Linked DNA regions of Homo sapiens: all the other regions are reported to be linked to region 2. The links are microRNA targets in miRTarBase. Many come from high-throughput screens and were not tested one by one. Region 2 holds a microRNA gene; each other region holds the end of a gene's coding sequence.
The links. Region 2 holds the annotated microRNA hsa-miR-4282 (UAAAAUUUGCAUCCAGGA, at 3,027-3,044, opposite strand). A microRNA usually pairs through its seed, bases 2 to 8, with sites in the 3' UTR of a target mRNA and lowers its output. Matches are read on the target gene's strand: a 7mer-m8 pairs with bases 2 to 8, a 7mer-A1 pairs with bases 2 to 7 and ends in A, and an 8mer does both.

Region 1 (4,245 bases), not on the chromosome of region 2:
TTGTACCTGAGATTTATACCATTTGCTGTTAAAAAAAAAAAAAAAAAAAAAGCCATACTACTCCCAAATACCTCCGCGCAATGTTTTCCAGTCATTAATTCAACAGCAGAATAGGGGATAGGACAAATGTCCTTATGCTCATGGAATTAATTTTAACGCCAGGTAGTTTAGCTTCTATGTTAAGTGCTAGAGAGCAGCATCCGTTAAATCTGGTGGCTGCAGCAGAGCACTTCCCTAGGAACCGACTGCACACGCCCAATTCAGAAGGAAGTGAGCACTGATTCCCGGCAGCCAACTCCCGTTCGCGCAGCCGCTGCCACCGGCCCTTAAGACGATGTGACCGCCAATTTTGTAACAGTGACGTCACCCGACGTCTGCAGGCCCTGACAGTTGGCTCTAGCGGGTGCGCAGTCTCCCTACCCCCGGTAAGGGGCTCTACCGGCCCTGGACCCAAGATGGGACTCCTACCTCCGACCACCCGGAGCAGCGGCGCCCCAGATCCGGCCGTCCGCCCTGCGCGTGCGCGGCCCGACCCCGCCGCGGTCTGGCTGTAAGGGCGCTGGAGGGGAGCTGGGCTGCCCCAGCCTTCAATGCTGGAGGGACGGCCGCGTGGGGCTTCAGAAAGGCTAGGCGCCGAGGAGTGTAAGCAGCGTGTGCCCATTTAAAGACAAAATCAGTGTGTTTTTCAGGTTTGTACGAAATGAAGTTGTAGAAAGATTAACAAGGGTTACCTGGGAAAGGCAGATTTTCAACTTAGCGTTTACATGTTCACCCAGTGCATTATTTTATTTAAAAAGAAGAAAAATATATACTTAACGGCTCCTAATCCAGCTCTCTTTGCCTGGTCTCCCAAGACACCTATCATTTTGCCCAGCACATACCTTGCCGCTGTGCCACACTGGAGTCCCCGGTTAGGTTCCCTGTGCTTAGACCGCCCCCTAGTCCCTCCAGGAAGCCTTTCCCAACCCTTTCGCGTTAACTGCCCGCCTCATCATCACAAAGGTAACTTGAGCTTTTATCAGTTTTAATTACTCCTTTTAATTTGCTCTTCTTCCCTATGTTTAGGCAGAAACGAGTCTTTTTTTAACCATATTCATCACCTGGTGCCAGCAACAGAAGTGTTCCCTAAAAATTCCTAGAATAAACCAACACGTGCTGACTAGATTCTCCATCTTCATAAACGGTGATACAAACTATGCACATCATAACTACCAGCTTCATGAGGTCAAGACTAAATCAAAAATTCTCAAGGACTTTTCTAAAAATTTTTTTAGCATAAACTGTTTCCTCTAACTTAAACTTCTCTTAAGTGAACGTGTCTTTCCACTGGGATGACTGTCTACATGCTCAGGAATCCTGAATTCATGACTATGTTCAACTCCCACGACCATTTTTAAATCATCAAAATGGCAGCAAATGTCATTACCTGGACCAAAAAGCTGCAGGTTTTGTGGCAAATGGGAAATGTGTTATAGAATATGACTGGGAAAGAGGGATTTCTTAGTGCTGCCCAGAATTAATTCAGCAAACACTGAACATTACTACGTGCCACATATAGGATCATACTGCATTTCAGGTCACCATCAAAGGTAAATTACAAGGCTGGGCGCAGTGGCTCATGCCTGTAATCCCAGCACTTTGGGAGGCCAGGGCAGGCGGATCACCTGAGGTCAGGAGTTCAAGACCAGCCTGGCCAACATGGCAAAACCCCCGCTCTACTAAAAATACAAAAATTAGCCAGGCATGCTGGCATGCGCCTGTAGTCCCAGCTACTTGGGAGGCTAAGGCAGGAGAATCGCTTGAACCTGGGAAGTGGAAGTTGCAGTTAGCTGAGATGGCACCACTGCACTCCAGCCTGGGCAACAGAGCAAGACTCCATCTCAGAAAAATAAAATAAATTTTTTAAAAAGGTAAATTACAAGACTGCAAAACTTTTTAAAAAAACCTTCCCCACTAGTTTGTACCTAATAAATGCTAACATTTAAAAGGGGGCACAAAAGGCCTGCAGAAATAAGAACTCACGTTCTTGAAAGTACTGCCTAGCATGGTATCTTCCTCATCATCAGAGGTGCTCTATACATCTTCAGTTGAAACGTGAAACAGACATCCATATGCAAAATATTTTCAAGGGTTTTGTTGGCTTTTACATGTTTTTCTTTAGATAACTGGTAATGATGCACATTACAAAGGAGACTTTTCTAAATCTCAAGTCCTTTGCTAATTTTTCTTTGGAACAACAGCACATTTTCAATGCCAAACCTTCTCCTACAACATACAAAGGGGAGATGCCAAAACTCTGAATTCTTGTAACGGATCCTGCAACTAGTTCTATCCAGAAGATGGAGACAATATTCCCTGGAGTTGACTGAACATGTGAGAAGGCACAGCTCAGAAGGAGAGGAAGGCTGAGGGCAGTGAAATGAGAACCTATGCATCACCTGGCCTTTTTACATGTTAGTCTATCCTACTATCCCAGGAATTCACTTCTGCTGTACTTGAGATTCAGGGATAATAATGTGACTCCTCCTCCCACATTCTAAGTAAATATGTTAACTAGATGAGCATTTATGTACATTTTAGAACAAAGTCTCCAGAAAGGTATAAAGTTTATTAACATCTTTAAAAAAAAAAAAAAAAAAAAAGATGGGCCGGGCATGGTGGCTCACGCCTGTGATCCCAGCACTTTGGGAGGCCAAGGCGGGTGGATCCTTTGAGGTCAGGAGTTTGAGACCAGCCTGGCCAACATGGTGAAACCCCATCTCTACTAAAAATACAAAAAAATTAGCCAGGCATGGTGTCGCACACCTGTAGTCCCCAGCTACTCGGGAGGCTGAGGCAAGAGAATCGCTTGAACCTGGGAGGCGGAGGTTGCAGTGAACCAAGATCGTGCCGCTGCACTCCAGCCTGGGCAACAAGCAAAACTCCATCTCAAAAAAAAAAAAAAAGATGGAACAGAACACAGCTACTGAATATGATATAGTTCCTTATTTACAAGTTTTACTATGGGAGGGACATTTTCCTCAGCATTTCAAATAATCAGAGGAGTAGAATTTTTTTCTAGAAATATCAGTATTTCACTCTCCAGGTCGAAGATTAATGAAAACATTAAGTGACTGCACCAGTTAGAAGAAGATAAACTAATACCTTAAAAATATATAAAAAAAGAAAGGGTAGTTGCTACTTAAACATGAATTTTCACAAAATTATTCTGTGACTAATTCAGACAATCTATTTGCTTAGAAAAGCTGGCAAAAAAAAAAAAAAGCACATTACATGAATATGCTTCATTTAAGTACATGCTTTCGAGCTGATTTAAAAAGAAAAGTTGAATTATGGTTTCCAGAGCTTTAGGAGTCCATCTTCACTGTAGGTAGCAATCAGGTTCTGATGAGGGTGATGTGCAATACCAATCACATCCTTCTCGTGCACCTGGAACATGTAAAGCACAGGGTTAGGATGTACAGATCTGCAATAAATCACTCTGATGAGGCTTCCAGAGGTGGGTGGAAGGGAAAAAGAGATCTTGGGAGGCCACATATTCCAAATGGCATAGGAGAAAGATGGAGGAGGGTTTTCCAACTCACATCACATTGTGACATAATAATAAACTTTAGGCTGGGCGCAGTGGCTCATGTCTGCAATCCCAGTACTTTGGGAGGCAGAGGCGGGTGGATCACTTGAGGTCAGGAGTTCAAGACCAGCCTGGCCAACAGGGTGAAACCCCGTCTCCACTAAAGATACAAAAAATTAGCCAGGAGTGGTGGCATGTGCCTGTAGTCCCAGTTACTTGGGAGGCTGAGGCAGGAGAATCACTTGAAACCAGGAGGCAGAGGTTGTAGTGAGCCGAGATCACACCACTGCACTCCAGCCTGGGTGACAGAGTGAGACTCCCTCTCAAAATAAAATAAAATAAAATAAAAATAAACAAACTTATATAGTGTTAAGCCACCGAGATTTGGGGATCATCATAGCAGCTGACATTAATTTTACTTCTTGAATTTGACATGGAGCTAAATGTTTTAAAACAACATATTTTATACTGAGGGTCACATCGATAGCTCTGGAAAAGGCACATACTTCAGAGTTCAGAAAGACACAAGTCCTACCATATTTCTTTAGATGAACTTAGTAAGTAATACTCACTGTCAAAGTTCTCTCCAGTTTGCCAGTGACTGTACTGAAACAGTAGAGCACAAAGTCCTCCCCTACACAGTAGATCCATTCACCACGGGGAGAGAGGGCACA
Region 2 (4,245 bases):
ATACAGAGTTGATCCTCAATATTATTAGTGTATTCCATGTTTGCAAATTTGCTAACCCACTAAAAATGTATTTATGAGGTGAAATAACACCTATGGCACCTTTGTGGCCCTTTACAGAGCAACAAAAAAATTTTAGTCTCCCAACATTCGGGTTCTCAACTGAGTTTGAACAAACTGACACTCTTGTCTTCTTGTTTCAGCACTCACACTGTAAACATGTGTCCCTTGCAAGACCTATTTTCTGCTGTTTTTCACATTTTCGTGCTTTTTTTAAAAAAAAATTCTTTTTTGGTTTACGTTTTATTTATCTATTTGTTTATTTTGTAGAAATTGGGTCTCACTACGTTTCCTAGGCTGGTCTCAAACTCCTGGTCTCAAGTGATCCTCCCACCTCGGCCTCGAGTGCTGGGGTTACAGGCATGCTCAGCCTTTTGTGCTTTTTGTTGATAATTTCACCACTTAAAATTGGCCCCAAGAGTAGTGCTGAAGTGCTGTCTACTGTTCCAAAGCACAAGAAGGCTGTGATGAGCCTCTTGGAGAAAACACAGTTGGTTAGATAAGCTTCTTTCAGGCATGAGTTACAGTGCTCTTGGCTGTGAGTTCAACATTAGTGAATCAACAATATTAAATAACGTATCATTAAATGGAAGCACAGGTAAAACAATAATATGTATTGATAAGTTGATAAAACTGATGAGACCAGAGGCTCCTGGGGACTTAGTCCTGTATATCCCTACGAGCAATGGCTTGGTATTTACTAATTCAGTGTTTGTAGTGACTTTACAGAACATAACTGCCACTGCAAATAATGAGAAATGGCTGTATCTCCTTCTGTTTTTTTCTTTCCTAGAAGCCATTTTCTCAACATTTCATCGTGAACTATTATGGCCTCATCGGGAATGTGAAGTGTGTCATCTGAGCAGATGTTCTTATTGTTTTCCTATCCACTGACCCACAGCATCAAACAATTTAGAGGAGAAAAGTGGTCCTGTCATCTCCAGAGTTATTATCTATTTTATTTTTAAATCCAAACTTCCACAATCAAGTTGCTATTAAGGTTTATCTTATTAGCATTTAAATTTTTAGGAAATGCTCATTACTGGGTTAAGCACAAAAAAGTCACATTGCTTGAAAAGTGCTATTTGTAAAACAGAATGGCCCACTTTGTCTATGTGTAAGAGGATCTGCTGCACATTTTTACCTGGAATAATATTGTCATGGATTTGGACATATGTGGAAGTGCTATTTGTGTTTATGCAGATCAACCTCTTGGTTTTACAGAAGAGAGATGCCAGTCCCAGGGAGGTTAAAGTGCCTGCCCAAGGCCGTGTGCTGGAGCAGAAGGGGAGGTGCTGCCTCCAGTCGAGTTAGAGCACTTCCCACCATCCACCACCATCAGGTCCTGAAGCCAAATACAGAAGATAGCATATATTTTTATTACTTTGAGATATCATCCTGAGCCCAAGAAGAATTTCTTGTTGCTGTCTCATAAATATATTACTTTGTTATTTATTAGTTTAGGCAGTTTATGACTAGCAGTCAAATATTCCCAATAAGGTTCGAATCAAAAATGTTATTTTGTTTTTGTATTATAAAAAGAAAAGCAGGCTAGGTGTGGTGGCTCATGCCTGTAATCCCAGAACTTTGGGAGGCCAAGGCGGGCGGATCACCTGAAGTTAGGAGTTCGAAACTAGCCTGGCCAACATGGTGAAACCCTGTCTCTATTAAAAATAACAAAAAAAAAAAAAATAGTTGGGCATGGTGGCAGGCGCCTGTAATCCCAGCTACTCAGGAGGCTGAGGAAGGAGAATCTCTTGAACCCGGGAGGCAGAGGTTGCAGTGAGGCAAGATCACCACACTGCACTTCAGCCTCGGTGACAAGAGTGAAACTCCATCAAAGAAAGAAAGAAAGAAAAAGAGAGAGAGAAAAAAAAGAAAAGCATATTTTGAAAGGTATCCTCTTAAATTTGTGGTGACCCTCAAATATTTATGCTAAAACTTAACTTTCAGTATGGAAACAGAAACATGGGTTCAATTTAAAATCCATGACTGGATCATGAGCAGGGCAAAGTGAGAGGCATTGTGAGATAGGGCCAAATGCTTCGAGAATTTACTCCATACAGACTGTGTTCAGGAACCCAGCACTTCCTCTGTGACTCAATAACTGGCACATATGGTTGCCAGGGACTACCAACAGCTGATTTCAATAAAAGTTACCCAATTACACCTTGAAGACCTGTTGTTTCTGGAGGGAGTTGGAGGAATTAAGGAATGTGGACTGAGTTTTTAAAATATATCTTACAGAAGTCAGAGGAAGATATAGAAGGACAGGAATATACTCAAGATACAATATTTTCTTCTACTGTACTTTTTGTTACATGGAACAGAATTTTAGCATTGGATCCCTTCAGCTGTGACAAAGGAGAAGGTCCATGGTTATAAAGTTTTCCATTAGACTCTCCTCACACACAGGAAATGAACTTCCATAAATTTAATGATATGACTCTTAGGGTTTTATTTCTCCCATTTTATAACCCTCTTTAGGATAGAAACACATTTCTTGCACTATAAAAATTTTAGTCAGCAAATTTTTCATATTCTCACTGGGATTTCATAATCAGTCTGTACACCCTTCCTATGCAATAACTTTTGATCAGTATAGTGAAATATAATGGTATTATGTAATTTTAAGATGTACATCTTAAAGACAAAAAAATATCCCTTTATTTAATTCAAGATAAATAAATCAGTGAGGAAAATGTATGGTGAAAAGTTTGGGCATATATTAGTTATCTTTCAATATATTTTTCATTTTTTTCTTTTTATTTCCTTCAACCATATGATGCAATCAACGGATATTTGTTGGGTGCTTTGATGTTTTCAGATCTATGCTATGCACTACAAGGGTCTCAAAAAGGAATGAAGAACAAAGTCCCTGCTCTCAAGAATGTAGAGTTTTCCATACAAGGTTCTAAAAACCATTAAGGTCACTTAAGATATCAGTCAGAAGGTGAATAGGATGATGTTCCTGGATGCAAATTTTAGAAATGTGGCATACTAAAATCTTCCCCTGGAACTTCACCATTCACACCTAAGAAGTTAAAGATGTCTCAGTAGGTTCTCACTATGTTGTCTAGGCAGGTCTCAAACTTCTGGCCTCAAGAGATCCCTATACCTTGGCCTCCCAACGTGTGGAGGTTACAGGCATAAGCCACTGCACCTGACCCATTTTCTCCTTCTGAAAACTCTTTTGGATTTTAGGATACCATGTTCTTTGGATTCTTCCCTGCTTACTCTGACCTTCCTTCTTGACCCTCACTGTCTCTTCCTCATTCGCAGGGCCACTTCTCCTTAGCGACCCCAACACAACCAAGTCTCAAAATTGGACATCTGATATATGTGACAAAGATATGTTTTCATTTATATAAAATGTGAATAGAAACTTACATACACACACACAAACATACAAACACACACACACTCACAGTGTCTCAGAAGTTCTGCAACAAAGAAATACAGTTATTGTCATTGAACCCAGAACTCCCTAAGTGTTTTTGACAGAGCAACTTTTTCTTGAGACAGATCTATAAAAATCTCTTGGGATAGTGGTGTTCTATGGAAAACAGTCTGGGGAATACTGAATTAGAGAACCGTGTGAGACATTTTATTATTAACATGCAAACTCAAAGTACTGAAAGTGTAGAGAAGAGAAATATCATTATGATCTAGACGGGTGAAGAAAAGAATCTCAAAGGAGGATAGACTTTTAAAGAAATAAGTGAAAAAAAAAACAGAACATGTGATGAGGAGGGGGAAATTCAGATTATATCTCCCAAATTGATGATATTGATTATTTGAAAGAGGAAGGCAAAGGTGTAGACAATGATTATTAGGGACTTTGACTTTCTAAGTTATACATTTCTATATTGTTTATGTACTTGTTTTTACAAAGTTTTACAAATGTTTTATGAAGTGGCTTATTCTTATAATCCAGAGATATTCTCCTAAAACTAACTAAAGTTTATTTATCAGATTAACTAATGATGTGTATAGCTCTTACTTCCACAATTATCCATATATACATATATGCAATATTTACAAACATAGAGATGTACAAATATAATATCTCGGCCAAAAATAATTGAAGCATCAAAGTCAACCTACATTGTAATCTTGGGCAGCACCTGTTGTTTATTCATCTCTCAAGTGTGGCTGACTTCAGGGATGAGAATAAACAATGTGATC
Region 3 (4,245 bases), not on the chromosome of region 2:
CGCTGTGTGGGTGCAGAGACCCGGGCTGGAGGGAGGACGGAAGGCCACTCCTCACAGTGAGGGCAAGTGCTCCCCGAGGCCTCCCAGTTCTCAGGGAACCAGTCCTGATTTTGTGCTGTCCTGTTGGCTCCCTGTCTTAGATGTATTAAGTTATTTCAGCATTTAATGTTTAGCATATTACAGACTCCTTTGGTGGAGCTATAGCTTCTATAATTTTGATGGGTTTTGTTTGTTTGAATGCAGGCAACATATTGCTGAACGTTCTGATTCCACCCAATATGCCATGTACGCGAACAGGGAAGAATAACGTTCTTATCGTCTGTGTTCCAAATCCACCAATTGACGAGAAGAATGCCACCATGCCAGTCACCATGTTGATTCGGGTAAAAACCAGCGAGGATGCAGACGAGTTGCACAAAATTTTACTGGAGAAAAAGGATGCCTGAACACGCAAAGTCGGCTGCAGAATTATTGCCAAGTTGCTGCTGCTTCCACCGCCCCTTAAAGTTAGTCAGTTTTTCTTCTCTTCTTTGACATTCTAAGAACTTATAGATAACTTAAAACTTTTGTGAGGAAGATTAATGTGGCCAATAAAACCTTTAAATGTTAAGTGTCAAGAAACTGCACTCTCCCTTCTTAAGAACTGCCTAAAGTGTAAAATACATTTGAATGCAATTTTTGGAAGATTTTTTAATGTTCGTTTATTAAACTAACCCTAAGTGATTTCTTCAAGGACTGCAATCAGGGTATCAATTTGCTTTCCCAAAGGCTCTTCCAACCCGTGGGTTTTGGGGTCCACCGCCACCACGAGAGAGGCTTTTGAACAGGTGCCTGGCTGTGTTCAGAAGGAAGCTGGCCTGTGTGCTTCTCTCCGGTGGGCTCAGCCGACGTGTGAGACTTGTTCTGTTACCAAATGAACCGGGCTGCCACGCTGTGACAGGCGTTTGTCCTCTGCTTTATTTTTACTTTGAAGCTCAAATGCGAGTACTAAGTGTTCACCTCAGCGTTCGAATCATTGGCCTGTAACCCTGTGGGCTGCTTCACGAGAATTCAGGACCTGCATTTTCATTCTAAAAAGAAATGAACAGCTTGTGAAGGAGTTTTTTGGCTTCATAGTTTCTATTCATGAGGTAGTGTTACTTCTTTATCCCCCTAAAGACAAAATGAAGATAAAGGGGGATTGCCAGGAATGGGTTTAAAAGCACAAATGTGGTAGCTTATCATCTACACCATGGAGAGTGAACCCTTACGAAATGAAAGTCAAATGAGACCATCCGAGAAAAAGATGCGCATAGGCATTTGTACCATGATCAACCCCACGCACATGAAAACTGTGACCAAGTGACGTGCCTGGGAGCTTTGACACACGAGCCGTGTGAATTCACTAGGAAACATGTAATAAAGTCATGGAAGAGAAAATCGTGTGTAAACTTTGCCTTTAACTTTAGACCGCAGTATATTATAATACATTTGATATCTGAAATATCTTTACTTTTTTAAGAGTAAGATTCCATATGTCTGTCTGGAAGGGAGCCATGGTTATTCACACGAATATCCCTGTCACTTCTCCAGAGGTGTCAGGTAACTAACACGAGCATTCTTTGAAGACTCTGGGCACATGAATGATACACAGAATTGAATGTTTAAATTTCCACTGAGTCCTCATGAATCATTTGAGACTAGTACCAGCTGATCTTGTGTACAGGCTCAGGGTCAGTGCCCAAGGGCTCCCGCGTGTGTGTTCTGATCTTCAGTGCGTAGCACATTCTCCATTTAGAAAAGAGTGGTCAGAATAATTGTGGACGGTACAGTGGCTTTTTAAAACTACAGTCTTTAGGTGTAAGGTTTGGCGCCGGGAGCAATTTTATGATCAAATATGATGAACTCCTAAGTCACTGAGGTGTGATTGGGCCAATGTTGGCATGAGGTTCTTGCTCTACTTCCAGTGTTTTGATTCCACTGGGAGAATTTGGCCTAGTGTGTGGCTTTGGATGAATCCGTGTAGAGAGAGGTGAGCTTGTCCTGTTACAGATGCTGTCAGACATAGCGATAGTAGGCACCTAGGGAGGAAGTGGCCGTTAGTTTTACACTGACTTTTTAAGAATGGAGAATGCACGTGGGTTTCTGTTGCGGATGATTCATAGTAAGCAAGCGGTTGATGCTGTTAATACCGGCCCCACCCGATTGACATTAAGTTTATTCAGCTTTTAAAAAGATGAAGAACTAAGGGGAACAAATTTAAGTTTGTTGCAACTTAGCCACACATGCTTCCCTGGTACCAGCTGGAATCAGCAGCTCACAGGCATCTTCAGGACACTTCAGTGTATATGACACAGTACTTTGTTAGCGTCTGCGTGTGTATGGAAAGTTGACAAAAAATGGCATGAAAAGATCATGATTGGATTTTCTTTTAAACCTGCCCTTCTGTAAAAAATAGTTTATATATTTTTAAATTAGTAGGTATGTGTGGCTTCCTTTTTTCCTAACATTCCCAGCAAATTTTTGCTGCTAAGACTATCACTGTTAAAGTGAAAATTACAGGGAAAAATGTGATGAATATACCGTAACTCAAAATGTGATATTTTCTTAAAATCACTCTTTTATGCTTTAGGAACTGGTTGGTCTCCACTTTGATTATTAGTGTAAAGAGCCTGAGTATACGTGGATTTCATTGTAAAATTTAACTCCTTGTCTTTTACTTGGGGCACGGGGCCCCTGGAGGGCTTCCCTACTTTCCCCACTATGTTAACAGGTAATTCTGATTTATGCGTTTAGTTTGACTTATTTTTAACAAAATATTAGAAGTTATGCTTTAAAATGTTTAATGTGGACTGAAATTTTCATCTTTTGTTTGAGAATCTATGAAGTGTATCATATACGTGGCCTAAAGCAAGGTGTGTATTTTGTTATTCTGAAATTGTTTTGCATCTGGACAAATACTAAATATCCCAGTGGCCTTTTTTTTTTTTTTTTTAAAACCTGTGTATCCATCTCATCCTTTTGCGCATTCCTAGTAAGCAAAAAAATTTGTTATGCCATCTTCATTATTCGAATTACAGACTGAAAAAATATGGCCAGTTTTTAAAGAAGTTTAGATTATGTTTTCCATGGAAGGACAAGTCTGACTGTTCATAGGCTGATTTTCTTTAAGAGGATTATTCTGTTTTACAATTTCAATTCTAGATCACATTTTATATATGCTGCATGCCAAAAAAAAAAAAAAGAGAAAACTGCCTTTTCTGGTGTGGAGGGGAAGAAAAACTAATATTCTACCTTACTAGTAGAGTTCAAAACAAGTTTTCACTGAGAGCCTTTTCAGTAAAAGTTAAACAAGTTTGTTTTTTGAGCATTTGTCAGTTATTCTATTTCAGAAGAGTCAAAATTCAAGCACGATACATTTTGAAGGCTTTGCAAACTCCTAAACCCCTGATGAGTCCTCTCATTCTGGAAGTGGGAATTTGAGTAGATACTGATTTGTCCCGTAGTATGGCAGATGACAGGGAGGTCTTTTCCAAGCAGGCACTCAGAACACAGGTCACCGTATGTTCTCAGCCAGTAACAATCATACTGAGGACGAAGGACTCTCCGTTTGATGCAGACACAATTGTAATGGAGATGTAAAACTTCTTAGCAATCAGATGGATAAATTGTTTGCTTTTTACTTTAAATAGGAAATTGTTTTCTAAAACTAAAATACTTGAATTGTCAGACAATATAATCTCAGCTTGTATTAGTTTTTGAATGCTCCCATCGAGGAAGTGTAACAATCCATGAAATGTGAATAAATGAAAAGTAAACAAAATCCCAATGTGTGAGTCTTATGTTCCTCTGTGATGCACTTGGCATTAATACAAGTCAGACAGACCTGAGGAAGAAGAATCAACGCAGAAGCTGCAACCGGAAACTTCCTTGAACAACAGGAAGGTCAGCTTGGAGGTGAGTGAGAGACCAGTTTATTATCAGACTCCTTGTTGGGGGCCGAGACTACTTTTAAACCATTCAGACCAAGGGTTTCTGTTGGATTAAAATCTTAACAGATTGGAATGGGAACAATTGATCCTTAATGGGCTAGTGTGCAAAGCATTGGCTAGGTGCTTTATATGTATTACCTTGGTTAGTCCTCAAAGCAAACCTTTGAGACTTATTTTTTAACCTTTCCTATGTTACTCAGCATTTATTTGGTTTATAAGGGGTATTTTCTGGTTTAAAAAAATAATATTGCAAAGATTTAAGTTATCCATCAAA

Region 1: miRTarBase lists SMU1 as a target of hsa-miR-4282. Seed matches in the 3' UTR shown: 7mer-m8 at 1,262-1,268.
Region 3: the mRNA of NUP50 is a reported target of hsa-miR-4282. Seed matches in the 3' UTR shown: 7mer-A1 at 1,861-1,867, 7mer-m8 at 2,497-2,503 and 7mer-m8 at 2,835-2,841.

The regions. Positions count from the first base shown.
Region 1 is chr9:33,043,963-33,048,207 of GRCh38, forward strand. It overlaps SMU1 (SMU1 DNA replication regulator and spliceosomal factor), which reads right to left. Exons shown (of 12, transcript NM_018225.3): 11 at 4,144-4,245; 12 at 1-3,429. The coding sequence ends at 3,331. Among named protein-coding and RNA genes, the nearest start is that of DNAJA1, 21 kb to the left of the region's middle. RefSeq lists an enhancer at 21-522 and a silencer at 377-696.
Region 2 is chr6:72,964,671-72,968,915 of GRCh38, forward strand. MIR4282 (microRNA 4282) reads right to left here and starts at 3,083; the gene lies at 3,017-3,083. All of the region lies in intron 1 of KCNQ5 (potassium voltage-gated channel subfamily Q member 5), which reads left to right. All of the region lies in intron 3 of LOC105377855 (a long non-coding RNA gene), which reads right to left.
Region 3 is chr22:45,184,210-45,188,454 of GRCh38, forward strand. It overlaps NUP50 (nucleoporin 50), which reads left to right. Exons shown (of 8, transcript NM_007172.4): 8 at 244-3,808. The coding sequence ends at 446. All of the region lies in intron 3 of LOC105373064 (a long non-coding RNA gene), which reads right to left. Among named protein-coding and RNA genes, the nearest start is that of MIR1249, 15 kb to the right of the region's middle.